Linked DNA regions of Homo sapiens. The protein of the gene in region 1 purifies or fractionates together with the protein of each later gene. This does not show direct contact. Each region holds a gene or a part of one and is shown in the gene's direction. Other genes may lie near its edges. The genes, in order: CEP350 and PPP2R3C.

Region 1 (11,646 bases):
GTCTAAGAATGTCTGCTTTTTGTTACCAGTTATTATAGTAATATGTTTATTTCTGCTCATTAATTTTTACACGTCAGATCTGAAACGGCAAAGAATTGGAAATCACTAACAGAGTCAGAACGTTCCAGAGGATCCCTGGAGTCTATTGCTGAACATGTTGGTATGTAACTAGAAAAAATAATTAACTTGTAGCTACATAGTCTAAGGATTTATGCAAAGGCCTACAAAATTCTACCTCTATAGCTTTTTTATTAAAAAGTGAATTTCTTAAGTAGATTATTTAACATTTTAAAGTTACTTTTATATTTTAAAGTGATTTATTGGCTATGTGTAAATTATATGAATCCTTTTTGTTTGTTTTAGTTTTTTGGGTTTTTTTTTTGTTCGAGACAGGGTCTCACTCTGTCACCCAAGCTGGAGTGCAGTGGCATGATCATAGCTTACTACTGCAGCCTTGACCCCCTGGGCTCAAGCAATCCTCCCATCCTAGCCTCCCAAGTAGCCAGGACCAGGATCACAGGCACATGCCACCATGCCCAGCTCATCTTTTTTTTTTTTTTAAGAGACGGGGGGGTCTCACCGTTGTTGCCCAGGCTGGTCTCGAACTCTTGGACTCACGCAGTCCTCCCACCTCAGCCTGGTTGAACATTACCAGCACTTCAGCCAAAGTGGTGAGATTATGGGCATGAGCCACCACACTCAGCTGAATCAGTCTTTATTGTCCAAAATTTATGAGAAAAACCAAAGTATAAAGATTAAATAGCTGAGTATATCATCTGCATCTCTGAATTTCCCCTAACCAGATTTTTAATCTGGTTATATATATTTTCAGCCTAACTATTTCTTAGCTAAATAGCTGTATACATTTTTCAGTTTAACCAAAAGAAAGTTAATTATTAAAAATAAAATGTAGGCTAGGCGCAGCAGCTCACGCCTATAATCCCCACACTTTGAAAGGCTGAAGTAGGCAGGTCACTTGAGCTCAGGAGTTTGAGACCAGCCTGGGCAATATGGTGAAACTCCATCTCTACAAAACATACAAAGTTAGCTGGGCATGGTGGTGCACACCTATAGTCCCAGCTATTTGCAGGGCTGAGGCAGGAAGATCGCTTACACCCAAGCAGTTGAGTCTACAGCGAGTTGTGATCAGCCACTGCACTCCAGCTTGGGTGACAAATTGAGACACTATCTCAAAAAAAAAAAAAAATGTAATTCAGTGAGAAAATAAAACTGAGGTGCAAAGAAACATCAGTGACAAATAGAGATTTGGCCAGGCACAGTGGCTCGTGCCTATAATCCCAGGTACTTAGGAGGCTGAGGCTAAGGATCGCTTGAGCCCAGGTTCAAGGCAACAGGGAGCTGTGACCACTGCACTCCAGCTTAGGTGACAGAGCAGATTCTTGCTCTTACAAAAAAAAAACGATTTGAATTTAAAACTTTTAACTCTTGGTTTGTTAGCTCACTATATTGTACTTTGATCATATTTTGCACGTTTAGCTCTTAAAGTGCTATATTTGCAGAAATAGTTGATCTATTTTCTTTTTAATTCAAGAGCTTAGTTGAAGCTCCTAGGAAAATGTATTCTTTTAGAAGTATATATGGAAGTCTGTTTCTCCTTCACTAGTTTCCTGTTTGAAAAATGTTTGTAATAACCATCATACAATTCTATTTTTGCATGATTTGAGGATGAATGTGCAAAGCAATGGTTCCATCAACTTAGATACATTTTTCTTCACTTTATAAGTTAAGACAGTGCTTAAGAAATTATTCCAAACTTTAGAATTTTCAGTAATTTTAAATGTTGATACAGATGATATTCTCTTAAAAGAAAAACTTATAAAGTAGCCAAAACAGGTCATATTTATTGACTAGAGGGGTTTTTTTCACTAAAATTTGGCTTTTCTCTAAACTTTGGTTCACAAAATTGAAAGATAGTGATTAAATAATTTTGATGTGGTGATTTGTTTTTTCTTTAAGATGCTTCACTGTCTGGTTCTGAGAGATCAGTATCAGAAAGGTCTTTATCTGCATATGCAAAGAGAGTAAATGAATGGGACAGTCGAACAGAAGATTTTCAGACCCCATCTCCAGTTCTCAGATCATCAAGGAAAATCAGAGAAGAATCTGGAGATTCTCTAGAAAATGTACCTGCATTACATCTTCTCAAAGAATTAAATGCCACTAGTAGAATTCTTGATATGTCAGATGGCAAGGTTGGAGAATCTAGTAAAAAATCAGAAATAAAAGAAATAGAGTATACAAAATTGAAGAAGAGTAAGATTGAAGATGCCTTTTCTAAAGAAGGTAAATCTGATGTCTTACTGAAATTAGTCCTAGAACAGGGAGATTCATCTGAAATTCTTTCAAAGAAAGATCTTCCTTTAGATTCTGAAAATGTTCAGAAAGACCTAGTTGGATTAGCTATTGAAAATCTCCATAAAAGTGAGGAAATGTTGAAAGAGAGACAGTCAGATCAAGATATGAATCATAGTCCAAACATCCAATCAGGAAAAGACATTCACGAACAAAAGAACACAAAGGAAAAAGATTTGTCTTGGTCAGAACATCTTTTTGCTCCTAAAGAGATACCATACTCTGAAGATTTTGAAGTGTCTTCTTTCAAGAAAGAAATTTCAGCTGAATTGTACAAAGATGATTTTGAGGTGTCATCTTTGCTGTCACTCAGGAAAGACTCTCAGTCTTGCAGAGATAAGCCACAGCCAATGAGGAGCTCTACAAGTGGAGCCACTAGCTTTGGTAGTAATGAGGAAATCAGTGAGTGCCTAAGTGAGAAAAGCCTTTCTATCCATAGCAATGTTCATTCTGACAGGCTGTTGGAACTCAAGTCCCCTACTGAGCTGATGAAAAGTAAGGAGCGCAGTGATGTGGAGCATGAACAGCAAGTTACTGAATCCCCTTCCTTGGCTTCAGTTCCTACTGCAGACGAGTTATTTGATTTCCACATTGGTGATAGGGTGTTGATTGGAAATGTTCAGCCAGGAATTCTTCGATTCAAAGGTGAGACTAGTTTTGCTAAAGGATTTTGGGCCGGAGTGGAGTTAGATAAACCTGAAGGAAATAACAATGGAACATATGATGGTATTGCATATTTTGAGTGCAAAGAAAAGCATGGTATTTTTGCTCCTCCTCAAAAAATATCTCACATTCCAGAAAACTTTGATGACTATGTAGACATTAATGAAGATGAAGACTGTTACTCAGATGAACGATATCAGTGCTATAATCAAGAGCAAAATGATACAGAGGGTCCAAAAGACAGAGAAAAGGATGTCAGTGAATATTTTTATGAGAAATCCCTACCTAGTGTGAATGATATAGAAGCCTCAGTTAATAGAAGTAGAAGCCTTAAAATAGAAACAGACAATGTACAGGACATTTCTGGGGTACTTGAAGCCCATGTTCACCAGCAGTCTTCAGTGGATTCACAGATTTCTTCAAAGGAAAACAAAGACCTCATTTCTGATGCCACAGAAAAGGTTTCCATCGCTGCAGAAGATGACACTTTAGACAATACCTTTTCCGAAGAATTGGAGAAGCAACAGCAGTTTACAGAAGAGGAAGACAACCTATATGCTGAAGCTTCAGAAAAGCTTTGTACACCACTTCTGGATCTTTTAACAAGAGAAAAAAACCAACTGGAAGCCCAGCTGAAGTCATCACTAAATGAGGAAAAAAAGTCAAAACAACAACTGGAAAAAATCAGCTTACTGACAGACAGTTTACTAAAAGTCTTTGTAAAGGACACAGTCAATCAACTACAACAAATCAAAAAAACCAGGGATGAGAAAATCCAGCTTAGCAATCAGGAGCTTCTTGGTGATGACCAAAAGAAAGTAACACCCCAAGACCTATCCCAAAATGTTGAGGAACAGTCGCCAAGTATTTCAGGTTGCTTCTTAAGTTCTGAATTGGAAGATGAAAAAGAAGAGATTTCCTCTCCAGATATGTGTCCCAGACCGGTGAGTATTTCGTCTAGAAAAAGTATCAGTATACCTTTTGACACTTTTAACAAGGCAACTTACCTTGCCTATATAGTACATTTTAATTCTGTGACTCCTGATAGGTTTTTTTTCCCTTGACGTGTTGTTTATTAGAGAAGGATCACTGTACTGGTTTTTAAAGGCCTTGTAGCTGTTTTTCCTGGCTGAAGTGTAATTGTCCTCTATTATGTCATGAGTAGTCAATATAGGGTTGTCACAAGCACTGGCAGGTTTTGGGGAACTAAAACATCCATTTAAACTGCTGAGTTGACAACCCCTGTACTGTCCATAGATTACATCTCCTTCCAGATTCACTGAACAAATTCGTTCCATGGAGCTTTCCAGTGGCTCACCACCCAATTCTTTTTTGCCTGTGAAATTGTTTACATATCTACTCAGTCATGGTTGGCCTGCAGAGGTTAGCAGTTGTGATGTTGATTCTGGTAAAATGAAATAGATCCACTATGACATGCACTCAGACCATCAGCTTGTTTATGTTGCCCATGGACAGTTGAGCAAAAGTAATGACTTTGAGTAACTTGAGCCAGATGGTCACCAGAGGTGAGAAATTTTATATCCCATTTCCATATCCCATAGACAGTTCTTTAGAAACAGAATAATGATAATACAAAAAGCGGGGAGAGCCCTAATCAATAAACATTTTATAAAAATTCAGTTATATGCAAGGTTTATATAAGTAGAATTGAGGGAACAGGATAACTTTTTCTTAGATTGTTTATTAGTAGCCACCATATTGTTTTTTATTCTGCTTACTTATAGAGAAATATTAGATATATAAATAATGCATTTACTCTGTCTTTTTTTAAAAAAAAATGATATGAGGTCCCTAAATGGTGCTCTGTTTGAATGGTTCCATTTCTATAGGAGAGCCCAGTATTTGGTGCCAGTGGGCAGGAAGAACTTGCTAAGAGACTTGCTGAACTTGAACTCAGCCGGGAGTTCCTGAGCGCGTTAGGAGATGATCAAGACTGGTTTGATGAAGACTTTGGTTTGAGCTCTTCTCACAAGATCCAAAAAAATAAGGCAGAAGAAACCATTGTACCTCTAATGGCAGAACCTAAAAGAGTAACCCAACAACCATGTGAAACATTATTGGCAGTCCCCCATACTGCAGAAGAAGTAGAGATTCTTGTACATAATGCAGCAGAAGAACTTTGGAAATGGAAAGAATTAGGCCACGATCTTCATAGCATCAGTATTCCTACAAAACTGCTTGGCTGTGCCAGTAAAGGTCTAGATATAGAAAGCACTAGTAAAAGGGTCTACAAACAGGTAGGTGAAATAAAAGGATAATTTTAGTTTTTAAACTTTTCTCCCATTGTCTGAAATTTGGATTCTTAGCCATTTTGTTTTGTTTTGTTTTGTTTTTCTCTATCAAGGCGGTTTTTGATTTAACAAAAGAGATTTTTGAGGAAATATTTGCTGAGGATCCCAACTTAAATCAACCTGTCTGGATGAAGCCATGTAGAATCAACTCTAGTTATTTCCGACGAGTGAAAAATCCAAATAACCTTGATGAAATCAAGGTAAACTGCAAACTATAAAGTGTCTTCTTTTTTGACTTGCTGTTCATTTACACATATCTGTAAATGTTGTAAAAGCAGGTGCTCTTCTGTATGATTAACCTTTGTGTCTTCAGGACCTGTTCCATAGTGGGTATTCAATAAAGATTTGTTGACTTACTGAATCCATGAACAGTGGAGGGATTGGAATGAGTGAAAGGGCTGAATCCTCAAGTTTGTGCAAAAAAAAAAAAAAATTCTTTTACCAGTCATTTTCTCTATATACATAATTATAATATTTAAGAAAAATTAGGAAATACCTAGGGAGATAAATTATTGCAACTAATAGGAGTTTTAGGTAAGTTTTGGGGGCTTTAGAGATAGGTATAATGTTCTAAAAGTACATATGAATACGTGTCATATATATGTCTTTTCAATATGCCAGCCCTGGACACATAGGTGTTAACTTCTTTATCTTTGACTTTGGAGGTTTCAAATTGGTAATGTGGTTTTGAACTATGTAGGATAGTAATGTGATACGTAAAAATATTTATTTTGTTATCTAAGAAACCTTTGTAAACCTTTGTCCAGAAGCTACAAGGACTATGAACTTTAAAGTCACATTGCTGGCAATCTGCTCTGCCTAGTCACATGTTTCTTTACGGCAAAGGTTATATTTCCAGAGCAGTGATTCTCAACTTTTAATGTGCATGTGAATGATCTGAGGATCTTGTTGAAATGGAGATTCTGATTTAGTAGGTCTGGAGTAGGACCTGAAATTCTGCATTTCCAACAAGCTCTCAAGTCATGCTGGTCCTGCTGGTCCTGCTGGTCCTGCTGGTCCCAGGACCACGCTGAGTAGCAAAGCTTTAAACTTGTATTTCCCAAACTTATTTGATCACAGAAAGCCTTTAAAAATATTTTATACTTATAGAACACCAACAGATATTTATGAGATGGGATGTATGCTTACCTCAGGGGTTGGCAAACTATGGCCCATAAGCCAAATCCAGGCCCCTGTATGTTTTTATAAATAAAGTTTTGTTGGACCACAGCCATACCTAGTTGTTTACATGTTACAACTACATGTAACTACAACAGTGGAATTGAATAGTTGTGACAAAGACCACATGGCCCGCAAAGCCTAAAATATTTACAGTCTGATTTTTTACAGAAAAAATTGGCCATCCCCTGGCTTAAAGTAACTAGCTTTTTAAAAACACATTGTATACTCCATTCCTTCTACCCTTTCACAATTGAAAATGCTTGAATGCTATGTGTGTCTGTGAACAGGTAGGGAGTGATGGAATTTCCGGGCACGTTGGTACTTTGAGAATCTTTCCAGGTGATTCTGATTCATAAATGTGTCCCTTCCCCTGTTAAGAACATTGTTTTTTTAACAGAACAACCATAAAAGTAACAAAATAAATTATTAATAACATTAAGTTGAGGTAAGACAAGATATATAATATATACCAACAATCAAACTACATGCATCAATATAGCATACAATAAATGCCCACTAATTTTAATATTGACATAACATTTTGTAAAGTTTTTAAGGGTGATAGTTCAAATATTGTTAGTAGTAAAATTATTATGCTTCTCATACTGAAGTGTTGATATTTTTTAATTTAACATATTTGAGTTTTGGTGCTTCAAAATAAACTATCCCAAAGTCTTTTGCTTTTCTCACATTACATTGTCCCCAAAAATTTCTTTGAGATTTTTCCAATTCAGAGATTTATTTTATGCTTTCTTTAGTAGTTTTGCCAGCTTGAAGTTAGCTAATGGTAGTTTTGTTGTTGTTTTTTCTTTGTTTTTCTTGAGGTGGAGTTTCACTCTTGTTGCCCAGGCTGGAGTACAATGGCGTGATCTCAGCCCACTGCAACCTCCGCCTCCTGGATTCAAGTGATTCTCCTGCCTCAGCCTCCTGAGTAGCTGGGATTACAGGCATGCGCTACCTCACCCAGCTAATTTTGTATTTTTAGTAGAGACAGGGTTTCTCCATGTTGGTCAGGCTGGTCTCGAACTCCCGACCTCAGGTGATCCGCCGCCTTGGCCTTTCAAAGTGCTGGGATTACAGGCGTGAGCCACCGCACCCAGCATGGTAGTTCTTAAGTAAACTCTAAAGTGATTTTTCTTTGCAGATTAATCAGTGGGTTTTACTTTGTTGTTGTTGTTGTTGTTGTTATTTTTAGATAAGATCTCGCTTTGTCACCTAGGCTGGAGTGCAGTGGTGCAATCTCAGCTCACTGCAGTCTGGACCTCCTGGGCTCAATCAGTTCTCCCACCTCACCCTCCTGAGTAGCCAGAACTACAGTCATGTACCACCATGCCCAGCTAATTTTATATATTTTTTGTAGAGATGAGGTCTCTCACTATGTTGCTCAGGCTGGTCTCAAACTCCTGGGCTCAAGTGATTCTCCTGCCTTGGCTTCAGAGAGTGCTGGGATTACAGACGTGAGTCACCGTGCCCAGCTAGGTTTTACTTTTATATGTTGCGTAAGTGAATAAAGTCTCAGCATTTGGAATGCTTTTCCCTTCAAATTGCTATGTGGAACTGTAAGTGGAAGAAATTTGTATGATAATTTTATTGTAAATATTATATTCTTATCGTGAATCTGTTTACTGCATTGTAAACACATGAAACTCAGGAATTTCTGTTGTTTGTGTTTCGTGTATTTGTCTTGTTTCCACAGAGCTTCATAGCAAGTGAAGTACTCAAGTTGTTCAGTCTTAAAAAGGAGCCAAACCACAAAACAGATTGGCAGAAAATGATGAAATTTGGAAGAAAGAAAAGAGACCGAGTGGATCATATCCTGGTCAGTGTATACAACCAAACTGTTTTTATTTTGACCATATCTTTTAAACTCAGAATGCAGTTAGATTCTAAAAGGAAAAGGGATAGACTTATTCTTAAATCTATGGTATTAAAATCTTAAAGCCTTTACTTGCTGCATTTCTACCCCTCAGTTTTGTTAACTATTTTCTTTTGTACTCAGTAGATGAACATTTAACTTGATCAATAGTATTTTATGTAGAACTTGAGAAATTTACTCAAATGGAAGCAAAGTTTAAGGTAGTGAATTGAAAAGAGACCAGTGTGGACTCTGGAGCCTGACTGCCCATGTTTAAATCTCTTGATGTGTAATCTTGGACAAATTTGTCTAACATTTTTGTGCAAAGTGAAGGTAACAATAATAGTACTTACCTGATAAAATTATTAAGAAAATTAAATAAGTATATGTGTAAAGCACTTAGAATAGTTCCTCATATACAACTCAGTAAATAATAGCTGTTACCTCATCATCATCACTATTATCATTATCCAGAACATTCCCTGGATAGGATTTATTTGGTTTTGCAATATATTTCTGTAACATTAGGAAAGTGTTTATCAAAAAAGAAAAAAAGAAAAATTCAGGTTTCACTCTAAACATTTTAATTCTGGACCTTTTATCTATATTGACATTTATATAATGAAAAAAAGTGTAATACTTAAATTTATCACCGTTCTCATGTATGTACCTCTCTAGTGTTTCATTTACTCAGTAATAACTGTACTAGATAACATTTGCTTAGTATTTTATAGTTTATCATTCTTATGCCTTATTTGATTTTTTTTTTTTTTTTTTTTTTTGAGACACAGTCTCGCTCTGTCACCCTGGCTGGAGTGTGGTGGCACAATCTCTGCTCACTGCAGCCTCTGCCTCCCAGGTTCAAGTGATTCTCATGCCTCAACCTCCCGAGTAGCTGGGATTACAGGCACCTGCAACCATGTCCAGCTAATTTTTGTATTTTTAGTAGAGATGGGATTTCGCCATGTTGGCCAGGCTGGTCTCAAACTCCTGACCACAAGTGATCCGCCTGCCTTGGCCTCCCAAAGTGCTGGGATTACAGGCATGAGCCACCGCGCCCAGTGTCTTATGCCTTATTTGATCCTCACGATAATTACATGAGGTAGGAAGAACTAATGTTATCCTTTGTTTTACAAATGAGGTGTCTTACGCCTTATTTGATCCTCACAATAATTACATGAGGTAGGAAGGACTAATGTTATTCTTTGTTTTACAAATGAGGAAATTTAGATTCAAAGATGTTAAGTGACTTGCCCAGTAAAATAAGAGACGAGATTTTAATCAACTAATTCTTCATAGATCTTCACATCTCAAGAAAGTGAATTTGTTCTCCTATTTCTATCATGTCTTAAAGTCTGAATTGTTATTAATTTCCAAGTTGTTACTTCCTTTACTTCTTAGGAATTAAAGAAAAAAGCATATTAAGAGGCATTCATCTAACCTATCAGCTAAATTGATGATATCCCCTATAAATCACCTCTGTATATACATTGAGTCAAAAATTGTGCTAATTAAGGACTGATGTTAACAATAGTAAGCAAAACAGACACAGACCCCACCTTCATAGATTTCCAGTTTGAAGGCAGAAACCAGCCATTAATATATCGTTTACACACAAGTGTGTAAGTTATGCATAAAAATGGAAGAATAGGGAGCTGTTAAAACCACAGGAAGCTGATATAATGAGGATGGTCAAGGCAGGCTTCTCTGAGGAAGTGACATTTGAGCTCAGATCTTAAAGATGAATACATGGCAGCAGTAAGAGAAAATGAGGAGGAAGCAAAAGTGGAAACCCCTGATAAACCCATCAGATCTTGTGAGACTTAATTGCTATCACGAGAATAGCATGGGAAAGACTCCCATGATACAATTACCTCCCCCTGGGTCCCTCCCACACACGTGGGAATTCTGGGAGATACAATTCAAGTTGAGATTTAGGTGGGGACACAGCCAAACCATATCAGTACCCTGACAGCAGAGGCTTCCAGTAGGTGCCAAACAGGGTCAGTTAAGCAGACATCTCTCTAACAGTTATCAGAAATTCTCAAATACTAAACAAAATATTTCTTTTGCAGGGGTAAGGTTATTATAGCTTGGGTGAGGGGAGTACTGTGCATAAGAATTGAAGCAATTTAGCAACTGGTAAACAATAATAATAAAGTATATATTATGTGACTATCCCCTTTGCTGGTTGTAAAATATTTTTTAGCTTCCTACAGAGAGACCTGACCTATATAACTTTTTGCATGAGCTCGTTCTTCTTAATTTTTTTTTTTAACAAAATGATACTGTCAGCTTCTTGAGCTAATTATTAACAAGAAATGCTAAATGAACTAGTCTCCTCTCCCATAATTAGATTTGGTAAACCTTGTATTTGCAGATTCTAATGTTTTTACATTTTAGGGGGATTGAGATTTAAAACAATTTTTTAATAACACGTAAAAGTTTTCTCAAACCACTTCCTCTACTCTCACATTACAACAATCATCACCACACAAGAAAACTTCTGTGACCATATGTGTGTGGACTTTTCCCCCACACACCAAGCAGTGGACACCAGCTGGGTATCCTCTGAATCAGTTCTGATACTCCCTACCCAGATATAGTGTCACATCCCACAGAGTGAGTGCTCAGTCCCCAAGACTGCCCCTGCCCCCTCCACACACACATACCAGTTGCAAGTCCAGGCCTCCAGAACTTCTGATGGACTAGCTTCAAGTTGGGGCTCCCAAGATCCACCTTTGGGTTTAATTAATTTGATGGAGTAGCTCACAGAACTCAGTAAACACTTACTTAGGTTTACTGGTTTATTAGGAAGGATATTGCAAAGGATACAGAGACGCATAGGGTGGAGTATGGGAAAGGGGCACAGAACTTCCATGCCTTCCCTGGGCTGCCACCCTCCAGGAACCTCCAGGTTTAGCTATCCAGAAGCTACCTGAACTCTTTCCTCTTGGGTTTTTCTGAAAGCTTCATGACATCAGCATTCCTTCCCCCAAGGTATTGGGTAGGACCCTCTCATGGGAGGGCCTTAAGACCCACAGTCAGAAAGGTAGGGGAACATTAGAGTGAAAGGAGGGCGGGCCTGCCACTGAGGCCTAACACCCTTGACATTTTTTTTTTTTTTTTTTTGAGACAGAGTCTCGCTTTGTTACCCAGGCTGGAGTGCAGTGGCACCACCTCGGCTCACTACAACCTCCGCCTCCCGGGTTCAAGCAATTCTCCTGTCTCAGTCTCCGGAGTAGCTGGGATTAGAGGCGC
Region 2 (11,646 bases), on another chromosome or scaffold:
TGTTCCTTGAACCTATTACCTTCTAACTCTATTAATTACAACGTTATTTGCAAGTATAGTAAACAATGATTTAGCTGGTGTTCTTACAGATTAAGGTATTTATATAAGTGAGTTATCCAGATACTGAAATATTTCTTCAAGTGCAAATTTTTTTCAACCGAACATTTTTTATTGGAAACCTTCCTATAATACTATATACTTCTCAACCTTTTAAGAATCATATGCCTGTAATCCTAGCCTATATTTATTGTAGAAAAGGAAAAAATATGGCTAAACAAGTTGATCTCTTCCCATGACAACATCACCCAACAATGTAAACAGAACATTTTATATGAATCTTTCTACATATTTCTGTGGGTATCTGTGTATTTTTTTAAATGGGATTACATCATACATACCTTTACTGCTTTTTGCATTTCACACTCTCCTTAAACAGAGGCAGCTAAATAACTGAATATTTTTGATAGCCGAGGGGAGAGAGAAGGGAATTGACATTTATTGAGTGTCTAAGCACTGCAGAGCCCTTTGTATTCTTTATCTCATTTAACCTGGATTCTTAAATAATATGTTACTGTTATCGAACATAGGTTCTTGGGTTCTCAATGCAAAAGGGAGAGAGAGCACCTGACTCTGAAAAGAGCTGGTAGGGCTTTTTAAAAAAAAATCAGGAATTGATATTAGGGTGGGGTATGCAGGCTGGGCTGGGCAAAGCAGATCAGGTAGGGTATGCAGGTCAGCATTGTCTGGTTGCTATGGTTATCTTGAGCAGCGGGCCACCTGGTCTGGCTAGAGGCAACAAGGCTGTAAATCAGTTGTTCAGCATTCCTTCCCCAGATAGGACACTCACTTCACAACTTTGGTTATCTCCTAGTTACTGGAATTCTTTTGAGTAAAAGGCATGGTTTGGACATTATGGTGTCAGTGAGGTAGTGGTGTGGGTTTTGTGATCAGTGGGAATGCATGAAAAGAGTGCCATAGTGGGAGTGAGCTGACCCAAGCCCCCATTCCTACTCTGTCTCATTCCTAACAGCTCTTGGATAGGAATGGTGTGACCCCGTTCCTGAGCCCAGGACTGAACTTTCTTGTACTTCCGGGACCAAACCTTTGCCTTCTTTTTCTGGTTCCTGAGGGAATCTCCTTTTTTTCCTTTCTTCGTGTCACTTCTCTCTTTGGCCACCTCTAGATCTTAGATGGTCTCCTGTCTGCAGCTATGGATTTGTAAAAAAGTCCTTTCCCTTCTTTCTTCTTCCTCTCCATGGTCCCACTGCTTCAGAGAAAACACCTATTATCTTGAGTCACCACTTCTCTCCTTGGCTGATTAGCTGGTTAACTAGCCACTAGAACACAATGTCAGTCACCCCCAACTCCAGCCCCATCCCCATCTCCTAATGTTTCTTCTGTTGACGAAGAGTTGAACTCTGTAAAATATTTGAAGAGATTTATTCTGAGCCAAATATGAGTGGCCATGGCCTGTGACACAGCCTTCAAGAGATCCTGAGAACATGTACCAAAGGTGGTTTGGGTGCAGCTTGGTTTCATACATTTTAGGGAGGCATGAGACATCAATCAAATACATTTGAGAAATACATTGGTTTGATCCAGAAAGGTGGGACAATTTGAAGTGGGGCTTCCAGGCTACAGGTAAATTCAAATGTTTTCTGGTTGACACTTGGCTGAGTTTGTCTAAAGACCTGGGATCAAACAGAAAGGAATGTCTGGGTTAAGATAAGAGGCTGTAGCGACCAAGGTTTTATCATGCAGATGAAGCTTTTAGCTAGCAGGCTTCAGAGAGAATAGGTTGCAAAATGTTTCTTATTAGACTTAAAGTCTGTGTTGATGTTAATGCCAGAGAGGTATAACGAGGCATGTTTGACCCCCACTTCCCATCATGCCCTGAAACAGTCTCTCAGGTTAAATTTTAAGGGCGCTGACTGAGGAGGAAGTCCATTCAGATGGTTGGGGGGCCTTAGAATTTTATTTTTGGTTTATACTCCTTTAACTCTGTTCCTTCTGATGGGAGGGATGGCATCTTAGTTCCTGGAAATGAAAGATGAAAACCATAACCCCAAGTTTTGACGTAAGGTTTACCGAGGTAATTTAATGGGGCTAAGATGTAGAAAAGGAAGAAGAACTCTTTAAAGTAAATTATTCTGGCTGGGTGTGGTGGCTCATGCCTGTAATCCTAGCACTTTGGGAGGCCAAGGTGGGAGGACTGCTTGAGTCCAGGACTTCAAGACCAACCTGGGCAACATAGCAAGACCCTGCCTCTATTATTAATTTAAAAAAGAAGAAATAAAGCAAATTGTTCTAAGTCAGGTTGGAATGAATCATTCTAAAGCTCTGCTCATGGAAATCACCCCAGTTGGCAAACCCTCTTGCCTGGGAGGCCAACATAATAGGCACTGCCTTGACTGTCTCCAAGAAGAAAGGTGATCCAATCTCAACAGGCATGCTTTCCTAAAACTGGACAAGAAGAATAAATGGTTTTTGCTGGACAGGAAGAATTACAGGTAAGAACCACCCAACAGGTTCTTCTTGCCTGCTACCCAGATAGAGCCAATTTATCAAGATGGGAATTGCAAGAGAGAAATAATTTCATATACATGGAGACAGCTAAATGGGAGACAGGAGTTTTATTATTACTCAAATCAGCCTTCTTGAAAAGTTGGAGGCTAGGGTTTTTCAAGGATAGTTTGGTAGGCAGGGGCTAGGGAATGGGTACTGCTGATTGGTTGGGGATGGAATCACAGGGATATAGAAAAACAGTCCTGGTCCTTGCGTGCTGAGTCTGCTTCTGGGTTGGGGCCACAGAGGAGTGGCTGGTCTGAGAGGGGCCATTGGGTAGTCAGAAGTGCAAAAGCCTGAAAAGACATCTCAAAAGGCCAGTCCTGTGTACTACAATAGTGATGTTATTTACAGGAGTAATTGAGGATGTTGCAAATTTTTGTGCCCTCTGGAATAATAACTGCTAATCATTTAACTGACCTGCATCTTAGCAGAATTCTGGTCCTTCGCATCCTCCTGACCTGGTGTCCTTTCATTAGTTTTACAAAGGCAGTTTAGTTTTGGGATGAGCTATTATCATTTAAATCATAAACTAAATTTCTCCCAAATTTATTAATATCTTGGCCCATGCCCAGGAATGACCAAGGGCAGATTGGAGGTTAAAAACAAGATGGAGTTGGTTAGGTCAGATCTCTTTCACTGTCATCATTTTGTCACTGTTATAATTTTGCAAAGGTGGTTTTGAAATTGTCAATCTCCAGTTAATCCTCATTTAATTCTTCTATATCATTCTTTTTTTTTTTTTTTTTTTTTTGGTAGATGGAGTCTCGCTCTGTTGCCAGGCTGGAGTGTAGTGGCGTGATCTCAGCTCACTGCAACCTCCGCCTCCTGGGTTTAAGCAATTCTCCTGCCTCAGCCTCCTGAGTAGCTGGGACTACAGGCACATGCCACCATGCCCAGCTAATTTTTGTATTTTTAGTAGAGACGGGGTTGCACAGTGTTGGCCAGGATGGTCGATCTCTTGACTTCATGATCCGCCTGCCTCGGCCACCCAAAGTGCTGGGATTACGGGTGTGAGCCACTGCCCCCAGCCAATTCTATATCATTCTAAGGAAGCCAGCATGCCCAGCCAATTCTGTGTCATTCTAAGGTGACAATAGAAACACAGTGCTTTAAGAAAATAAAATGAAACTTGGTCTAGACTAGCTTTTAGAATGGCTTTTTCAGGGCAGAGATCCAGCCTTTCTGATCACCGATTCTCTGTGGATCAGTTTTTGTTAAACAAATGTTAAGCACAATTAAGGTGAGATACAAGAAATAATTCGAGGCGGTGGCATACAGTTATTTTATGAGGCCACATACATTTTATAGGATCCAGTAGTCTAAAATTTACATGTAGAAATTTACCTTGTATTTTCAGCTGCCTGCTGAAGATGAAGTCTTACTACAGAAATTAAGAGAGGAATCAAGAGCTGTCTTTCTACAAAGAAAAAGCAGAGAACTGTTAGATAATGAAGAATTACAGGTAAGAACAAAGCAAAAAGTTGCTTTAGATGTTAACCATTTCTCATTTGTGCTACTTAAATCATGCAGGATTTCTTGGTGCCTAATGGAGTCCGTACTACAGAGTGGTACTACATAGGCTCTGAAGCAGCAGTTCCCACCAGAAGCAGCCGCTGAGTTTGCATGGGTCATGTACCCCAAACATAGTGTTGTTTGTTATTTTTGTTTAAGGCCCTAGGTGATTCTAATGTGCAGCCAAGGTTGAGAACCACTGCTGTAGGGTCAGACTACAGAGGTTCAAATCCCAGCCCTGCTATATGACTTTAGGCAATGGACTTAACATCTCTGTGCTTCGATTATCATCTCTAAAGTAGGGATAGCTAACTATATCATAGAGATGTGGATTAAAGAGGCAGTGTATATCAAAAGCTTAGTAGGCACTCAATAAATGTTATTTTTATTGTTAGTAATCAAAAGGATAATAGGGCATGAGATTCATCTTAATATTGACTCTGCCAACAAACTCTCATTTTAGTGGAAAGCACACATTTAACTACATATTAAAATCTTGTTGTTTTTAACTTACAACATCTTCACTTCCACAATTCTCTTAAGAACTTATGGTTTTTGCTGGACAAACACCAGACACCACCTATGATTGGAGAGGAAGCGATGATCAATTACGAAAACTTTTTGAAGGTTGGTGAAAAGGCTGGAGCAAAGTGCAAGTAAGAATAATATAATTAACAAAAGAATGTGTTATGTTAAGCATTTTAAATGCCTCAAATATTGGCTGGGCACAGTGGCTCACACCTGTAATCCCAGCAGTTTTGGAGGCTGAGGTGAGAGGATTGCTTGAGCTGGGGTGTTTGAGGCCAGCCTGGGCAACTTAGGGAGATCTTGTCTCTACTAAAAAAATTATCTGGGTGTGGGGGCGTACACCTGTAGCTACTCCGGAGGCTGAGGTGGGAGAATTGCTTGAGCCCGGGAGGATGAGCTGTGATTAAGCCACTGCACTCCAGCCTGGGCGATAGAGCAAGACCTTACCTTTAAAAAAAATAAACAAATCCTCAAATATTAAATGAAGTAAATGGAATGACATTTGAGTCCATTTAAGTTACTAATTAAATTTAATAAAATTATTTACAGTCAAAAAATCACATTGGTATGAAGTTATTAAAATAAATAATATAGCCAGGTGTGGTGGCTCATGCCTGTAATCCCAGCACTTTGGGAGGCTGAGGTGAGCGGATCACGAGGTCAAGAGAACAAGACCATCCTGACCAACATGGTGAAACCCCGTCTCTACTAAAAATACAAAAATTAGCTGGGCGTGGTGGCGTGTGCCTGTAATCCCAGCTACTCAGGAGGCTGAGGCAGGAGAATCGCTTGAACCCTGGAGGCGGAGGTTGCAGTGAGCCGAGATCGTGCCACTGCACTCCAGCTTGGCAAAAGAGCAAGACTCCATCTCAAAAAAAAAAAAGAAATAATATAGTTTATGACACTTTCAGCCTTAAGACAGACGAAAGCAAACAAAAAAGAATGCAAGGCCAGGCACTGTGGCTCACGTGCCCATCTCTGCAAAATAAAAAAAACTTTTAATTAAAAAAAAAAAGAATGCAAACATTTATGACTTAGGCTAGGCATGGTGCCTCACGTTTGTAATTCCAGTGCTTTGGGAGGCCAAGGCAGGTGGATCACTTGAGGCCAGGAGTTCGAGATCAGTCAGGGCAACAGAGCAAATCTCTGTTTATATATATATATTTATCTTTTTTTTTGAGATGGAGTCTTGCTCTGTCGCTAGGCTGCAGGGGAGTGGCGCAATCTCAGCTCACTATAACCTCCGCCTCCTGGGTTCAAGTGATTCTCCTGCCTCAGCCTCCCAAGTATTATTGTATTAACAAAAGAATATGTTAAGCATTTTAAATGCCTCAAATATTGGCTGGGCCAATATAAATACAATATAATACAATATAAATACCCAATACAAATACTTTTTGTATTTTTACTAGAGACGGGGTTTCACCATGTTGGCCAAAATGGTCTCGATCTCTTGACTCATGATGTGCCTGCCTCAGCCTCCCAAAGTGCTGGGATTACAGGCAAGAGCCACTGCGCCTGGCCAAATCTCCATTTCTTTTAAAAAAAAAAAAAAGTTTGACTTAATATTTTAAGTTTTTGAATTATAAGGAGTCTCTATTGTTCTTTCATTTTTAATTGTATGAATTTATGCCATTGTTTGCTAATTTATGTAGAAGTCATTTTCTTTTATGTTGGCAGATCATTTAAATCTTTATTTTCTTTTCTTAGGCAATTTTTCACAGCAAAAGTCTTTGCTAAACTCCTTCATACAGATTCATATGGAAGAATTTCCATCATGCAGTTCTTTAATTATGTCATGAGAAAAGGTGATTCATTTTTACTGTGCTTGAACTCCTTATCTGGGAATCAAGTAGGTTTTTGGTCTGTGCTTTTATAAGTATTTCTTCTATGTGAAATCACTCTAAGTTTGAATAGTAGAATTTCTTATCTTTTGACCAAGATGTGTTACATAAACTTGGGTTAGCATAAAAAAACAAAAATTTTTTAAACCCTCATGTGTCTTAAAGATAATAGTAGACTAGAAATATTAAGAGCTGAACCAAGAGTTTTAATGTATGGTAATTTGAAATAATTTTAATTTACTGATAATTTTATTTTACCAGTATATTACAAGTTGAGTTGACTGATAGTTTCAAACCCAAAGCTGTAATATCAGTTTCAAGGAGCATCAATTAAACAGCTTGGACTTATGATTCCTACAAGTGCCATAATAATCTGTGAAAGCCTATTGTATACAATCTTTAATAATTGGTTGCTGTAATTAACCTCAGAAATAAAAGCAGCTTCACTGAAGGCATAATATTATACTAGCTGTCCCTGTTTGGTGGAACACCAAGTTTAATTGGTAAAGAACAGTATCTTCAAGGTGTCAATTTTATTATAGCTTTAGTCATGGTAGAATTGTTGAACTCTTCCATTCTATGGTTTTTTGTTTCAAGCAATTTTGTGGTGAGAAGAAATGTTTTTAGAGTTACTAGATTAGCTTGTCTCAAATCTGGCTCTTTATCTCCTTTTTCATATCTGAAGGATAGATCTTAAGAATTACTTTCATTTTCTTGTTTATTGTCAGTTTGGCTTCATCAAACAAGAATAGGACTCAGTTTATATGATGTCGCTGGGCAGGGGTACCTTCGGGAATCTGTAAGTGTTAACCTTATAGATATTATATTAACTCTTATAGACACTAAAATGTAAACTGTAGTTATCACTGGGTGTTGGGATTACAGGCTGTTCTCATAATACTTTGTTTTATTTCTGTCTGTGTGTGTTTGTGTGTACATATTTAGTTTTACTGTAACAAAGCAACTTGTACACTTTCAACTTTTAAAATTGAACATCATCTTTCCAGTGAAACAAAAAACAAATTTAAAATAAACAAAATTACAATAGAGAATGTCAATTCCAAATAAGATCCTACAGGTTCTACTGATTCTCCCATGGAGTAGCAGCCTTCAAGTCATCATTAAGAGAGAATTTATGCTGGGTGTGGTAGCTCACACCTGTAATCCCAGCACTTTGGAAGGATGAGGCAGGCGGATCACCTGAGGTCGGGAGTTTGAGACCAGCCTGACCAACATGGAGAAACCCTATCTCTACTAAAAATACAAAATTAGCCAGGCTTGGTGGCACATACCTGTAATCCCAGCTACTTGGAAGGCTGAGGCAGGAGAATCACTTGAACCCAGGAGGCAGAGGTTGCTGTGAACCGAGATAGCGCCATTGCACTCCAGCCTGGGCAACAAGAGTGAAACTCCGTCTCAAAAAAAAAAAAAAAAAAAAATGTATTGGCTGGGTGCAGTGGCTCACGCCTGTATTCCCAAGGCCTGTACTCCCAGCACTTTGGGAGGCTGACGTGGGCGGGTCACCTGAGGTCAGGAGTTTGAGACCAGCCTGACCAATATGGTGAAATTCCATCTCTACTAAAAATAGAAAAATTTGCTGGGCTGTGGTGGTGCATACCTGTAATCCCAGCTATTCAAGGGGCTGAGGTGGGAGAATCGCTTGAATCTGGGAGGCAGAGGTTGCAGTGAGCCGAGATTGCACCACTGCACTCCAGCCTGGGCAACAGAGGGAGACCCTGTCTCAAAAAAAAAGAGAGAGAGAATTTATTTTAAAGGTGTCATTTTAAACTGCAAGGATGCCCCTTAAAAATCACAATTAAACATGCCAAAGGAAAAGCAACGTTGTCAAAATGCTCACTTTAAACTATCAAAACGTTTCAAACCTACCCTTTGCTGACCTATAACCCCATTTTGTAAAATTTATTTTCTTTTTTTAAATAAGAGACAGTAGACAAGGATGCCGGGCGTGGTGGCTCACGCCTGTAATCCCAGCACTTTGGGAGGCCGAGGCGGGCGGATCACGAGGTCAGGAGATCGAGACCATTCTGGCTAACACGGTGAAACCCCATCTCTACTAAAAATACAAAAAAAAATTAGCCGGGCGTGGTGGCAGGCACCTGTAGTTCCAGCTACTTGGGAGGCTGAGGCAGGAGAATGGCATGAACCCAGGAGGCGGAGCTTGCAGTGAGCCGAGATCACGCCACTGCACTCCAACCTGGGCGAAAGAGCGAGACTCCATCTCAAAAAAAAAAAGACACAGTAGACAAGGAGATGTTGGTAAATGCTAACTGTCCATATTCACATAGAGACATAGTATACTCTGCGCTCAATAGAGGAAAGCAGCTAGAATTCTATGCACGACTACACAAGGGCCTAGCACCTTCCAGCTTCCAGCAGAGCAAAGGGAACAGGTTTTTCTTTTTTTTTCCATAGACCTCGGTGGTGTTGATTCCATATAGTTTTTGTTGAGACACAGGATGTTTCCGTTTTGGGGTTTGGTTTTTTATTTTTATTTTTTTTAACAAATGACATGTGTTACTAAACAAATGTTTAATGTATATTGACTATACAAATTCCTTTTTAGATTCTTTTTCTTCAAACTTTAAAAAAAAAAGGCCTTTTGGCTGGGCGCGGTGGCTCATGCCTATAATCCCAGCATTTTGGGAGGCCGAGGTGGGCAGATCTTGAGGTCAGGAGTTCAAGACCAGCCTGACCAACATGGAGAAACCCCGTCTCTACTAAAAATACAAAAATTAGCCAGGCATGGTGGTGGCCACCTGTAATCCCAGCTACTCAGGAGGCTGAGACAAGAGAATCGCTTGAACCCAGGAGGTGGAGGTTGCAGTGAGCCTAGATTGTGCCATTGCACTCCAGCCTGGGTGACAAGAGCGGACTGTCTCAAAAAAAAAAGCCTTTTAAAGGGGAAAATAAAAAGAATGTAGCATTTTAACATTTAAAAATCACTGAAAAACGTTTGATTATTCATGAGTGATATTAATGTGTCACTATTTTTTAAAGGGCCAAGAATTCCACCCCCCCGCTTTTTTTTTTTTAAGAAAATATAAGAGAAGCCAGACACGGTAGCTCACGCCTGTAATCCCAGCACTTTGGGAGGTGAAGGCGAGTGGATCACTTGATGTCAGGACTTCGAGACCAGCCTGATCAACATGGTGAAACCCTGTCTCTATTAAAAATACAAAAACATTAGCTGAGCATGGTAGCAGATGCCTGTAATCCCAGCTACTAGAGTGGCTGAGGCAGGAGAATCGCTTGAACCCAAGAGGCAGTTGCAGTAAGCTGAGATCATGCCACTGCACTCCAGCCTGGGCAACAGAGCAAGACTGTCTCAAAAGAAAAAAGAAAATATGAGAGAGAAAATGAATGTGACTGTATTCCCACCTCTGGGTTTAAGATTGCTAGGTCAGTTACCAAGAGGCTGCTTGTTTCCTATTAGGCACTGCTGTAATTAGGCCAAGTTATCAACAGAGAATTATAACTTCATGGTCCAAATGGCTATGCTTCTTCTGAGTATGGGTATCTAAATTATATGGACTTACTTTTCACCTCAGGCTTTTTTCCCAAATATACAGTGCTTTTTTTAAGATTGTAGGGGAGAGGGGAAGGGAGTTGGGCATGAATATAAACTAGGTTAATTAATCAAATAATTATTCAGATATAAGGGTTAAAGAAATGTAAATTTCTTGTTATAGTTCGTATGGTTCCTGCTATAATTTGTTGCATTCTGTTTTGTCTAGATTTCTGTAGATAGAATCTGTTAGCTCATTCTGAACATTTATACTGTAAAACCTTTCCAGGGGCACACTACAGTTCTCTTTAAGGTTCAGACCAACTTGAGAATAAAAGGCTCTTGCTTCTGGCAAGGAAGACATAATTAGCCACCTGCTGGTACTCGTTTAGAGGTCAGGTCCAAAACTGGAGTACTTCTCTAGCTCTGAGAATTCTTGTTAGCAGTTCACTTGATTTATAAAAACAGCAATATTGATTTATAAAAACAGTCCCCTGTTACTGCTTGTCTTGCCTCTTTCCATGGATGGAAACAAAGATTGAAAGAGAGATGAGCAAAAGGGAGAGAAAAGAAACAGTGTACTTCTATAGTTGTTTTTAAAAAGGAATAATTTTCCCCTTCTCTCAATGAAAGAAAACACTTTTCTCAAAGTATTTCTTCCATCCTTGGCCCATTGCCTTTTGAAACCCAGACTTTGTGTCTTACTAATTTGAAAGGCAGTGGCTTCCAGACCAACATTTATAATCTGAGTAGAGTATACAAAGTTTTATTCACTTATTAAATCTTATTAAGCATTTAGTAGACATTTATTTGGGGGCAGGTATTATTCTAAGCTTGTAGGGCTCATGTTTTACTTTGTGACAATCTGTTTGCCCAGATTTCTTTTTTTTCTTTTTTTTGTTTTCTTGCCCAGATTTCTGTAGATGGAATCTGTTAGCTCATTCTAAATGTTATACTTTAAAACCTTTCCAGGGACACAGTACAATTTTCATTCCCTTGTAGACCTATTTTTTCTAGCAGAGTGGGAAGACAGACACTAAATTATAAGCAGATAATATCAAATAGTGACAAGTTATATGTAGAAAATAAAACAGTAAACTAGGCAGGAATATGACTGGGATTGACAGACGATTTTAGGTAGGCTGGAAGGAGCATCTTTTTGAGATAGTGATTAAGTTTTAGCCATGAAGTACGAGAAAGAAGCCAGCCTTATGAAGATGTAGTATAGAGGAAACGGCAAATACAGTGTCTCCAAGGCAAAATTAAGCCTGGACCTGTTCTAGGAACAGAAGGAAGCCAGTGTGGCTAGAACAAGGACTATAGTAACAGAAAATGAAGTTGGAGAAGTAGGCAGGGGCCACATGTAGGGCCTTTTGGGCCACAGTAAGGACTTTGGATTTATTTTGAGGCTAACGGGAAACCATCGGAAGTTTTAAGCTGAGTCTGTCAGGATATGATTTACATTTTAAAAGATCATTCTGGATGCTGTATGGAGGATGTAAGGAACTCAAAGTACGGCCAGGCACGGTGGCTCATGCCCGTAATCCCAGCAACTTTGGGAGGCCGAGGCAGGTGGATCGCTTGAGCTCGGGAGTTCAAGACCAGCCTGGCCAACATGACGAAACCCCGTCTCCACTAAAAATACAAAAATTAGCTGGGTATGGGGGT

Evidence for each region.
Region 2: the proteins of CEP350 (region 1) and PPP2R3C purify together in Homo sapiens (affinity purification with mass spectrometry; 2 studies listed by BioGRID and IntAct, with this or other methods). This does not show direct contact.

Annotation. Positions count from the first base shown.
Region 1 is NC_000001.11:180,090,637-180,102,282, forward strand, and holds part of CEP350 (centrosome-associated protein 350), read left to right. Parts: intron 1-77; coding exon 78-160; intron 161-1,977; coding exon 1,978-3,980; intron 3,981-4,886; coding exon 4,887-5,294; intron 5,295-5,401; coding exon 5,402-5,548; intron 5,549-8,226; coding exon 8,227-8,349; intron 8,350-11,646. UniProt on the Homo sapiens protein: Plays an essential role in centriole growth by stabilizing a procentriolar seed composed of at least, SASS6 and CPAP. Required for anchoring microtubules to the centrosomes and for the integrity of the microtubule network.
Region 2 is NC_000014.9:35,102,909-35,114,554, reverse strand, and holds part of PPP2R3C (serine/threonine-protein phosphatase 2A regulatory subunit B'' subunit gamma), read left to right. Parts: intron 1-1,424; exon of another isoform or gene 1,425-2,480; coding exon of another isoform or gene 2,481-2,510; intron 2,511-3,912; exon of another isoform or gene 3,913-3,925; coding exon 3,926-4,030; intron 4,031-4,623; coding exon 4,624-4,736; intron 4,737-6,318; coding exon 6,319-6,416; intron 6,417-7,180; coding exon 7,181-7,251; intron 7,252-11,646. UniProt on the Homo sapiens protein: May regulate MCM3AP phosphorylation through phosphatase recruitment. May act as a negative regulator of ABCB1 expression and function through the dephosphorylation of ABCB1 by TFPI2/PPP2R3C complex.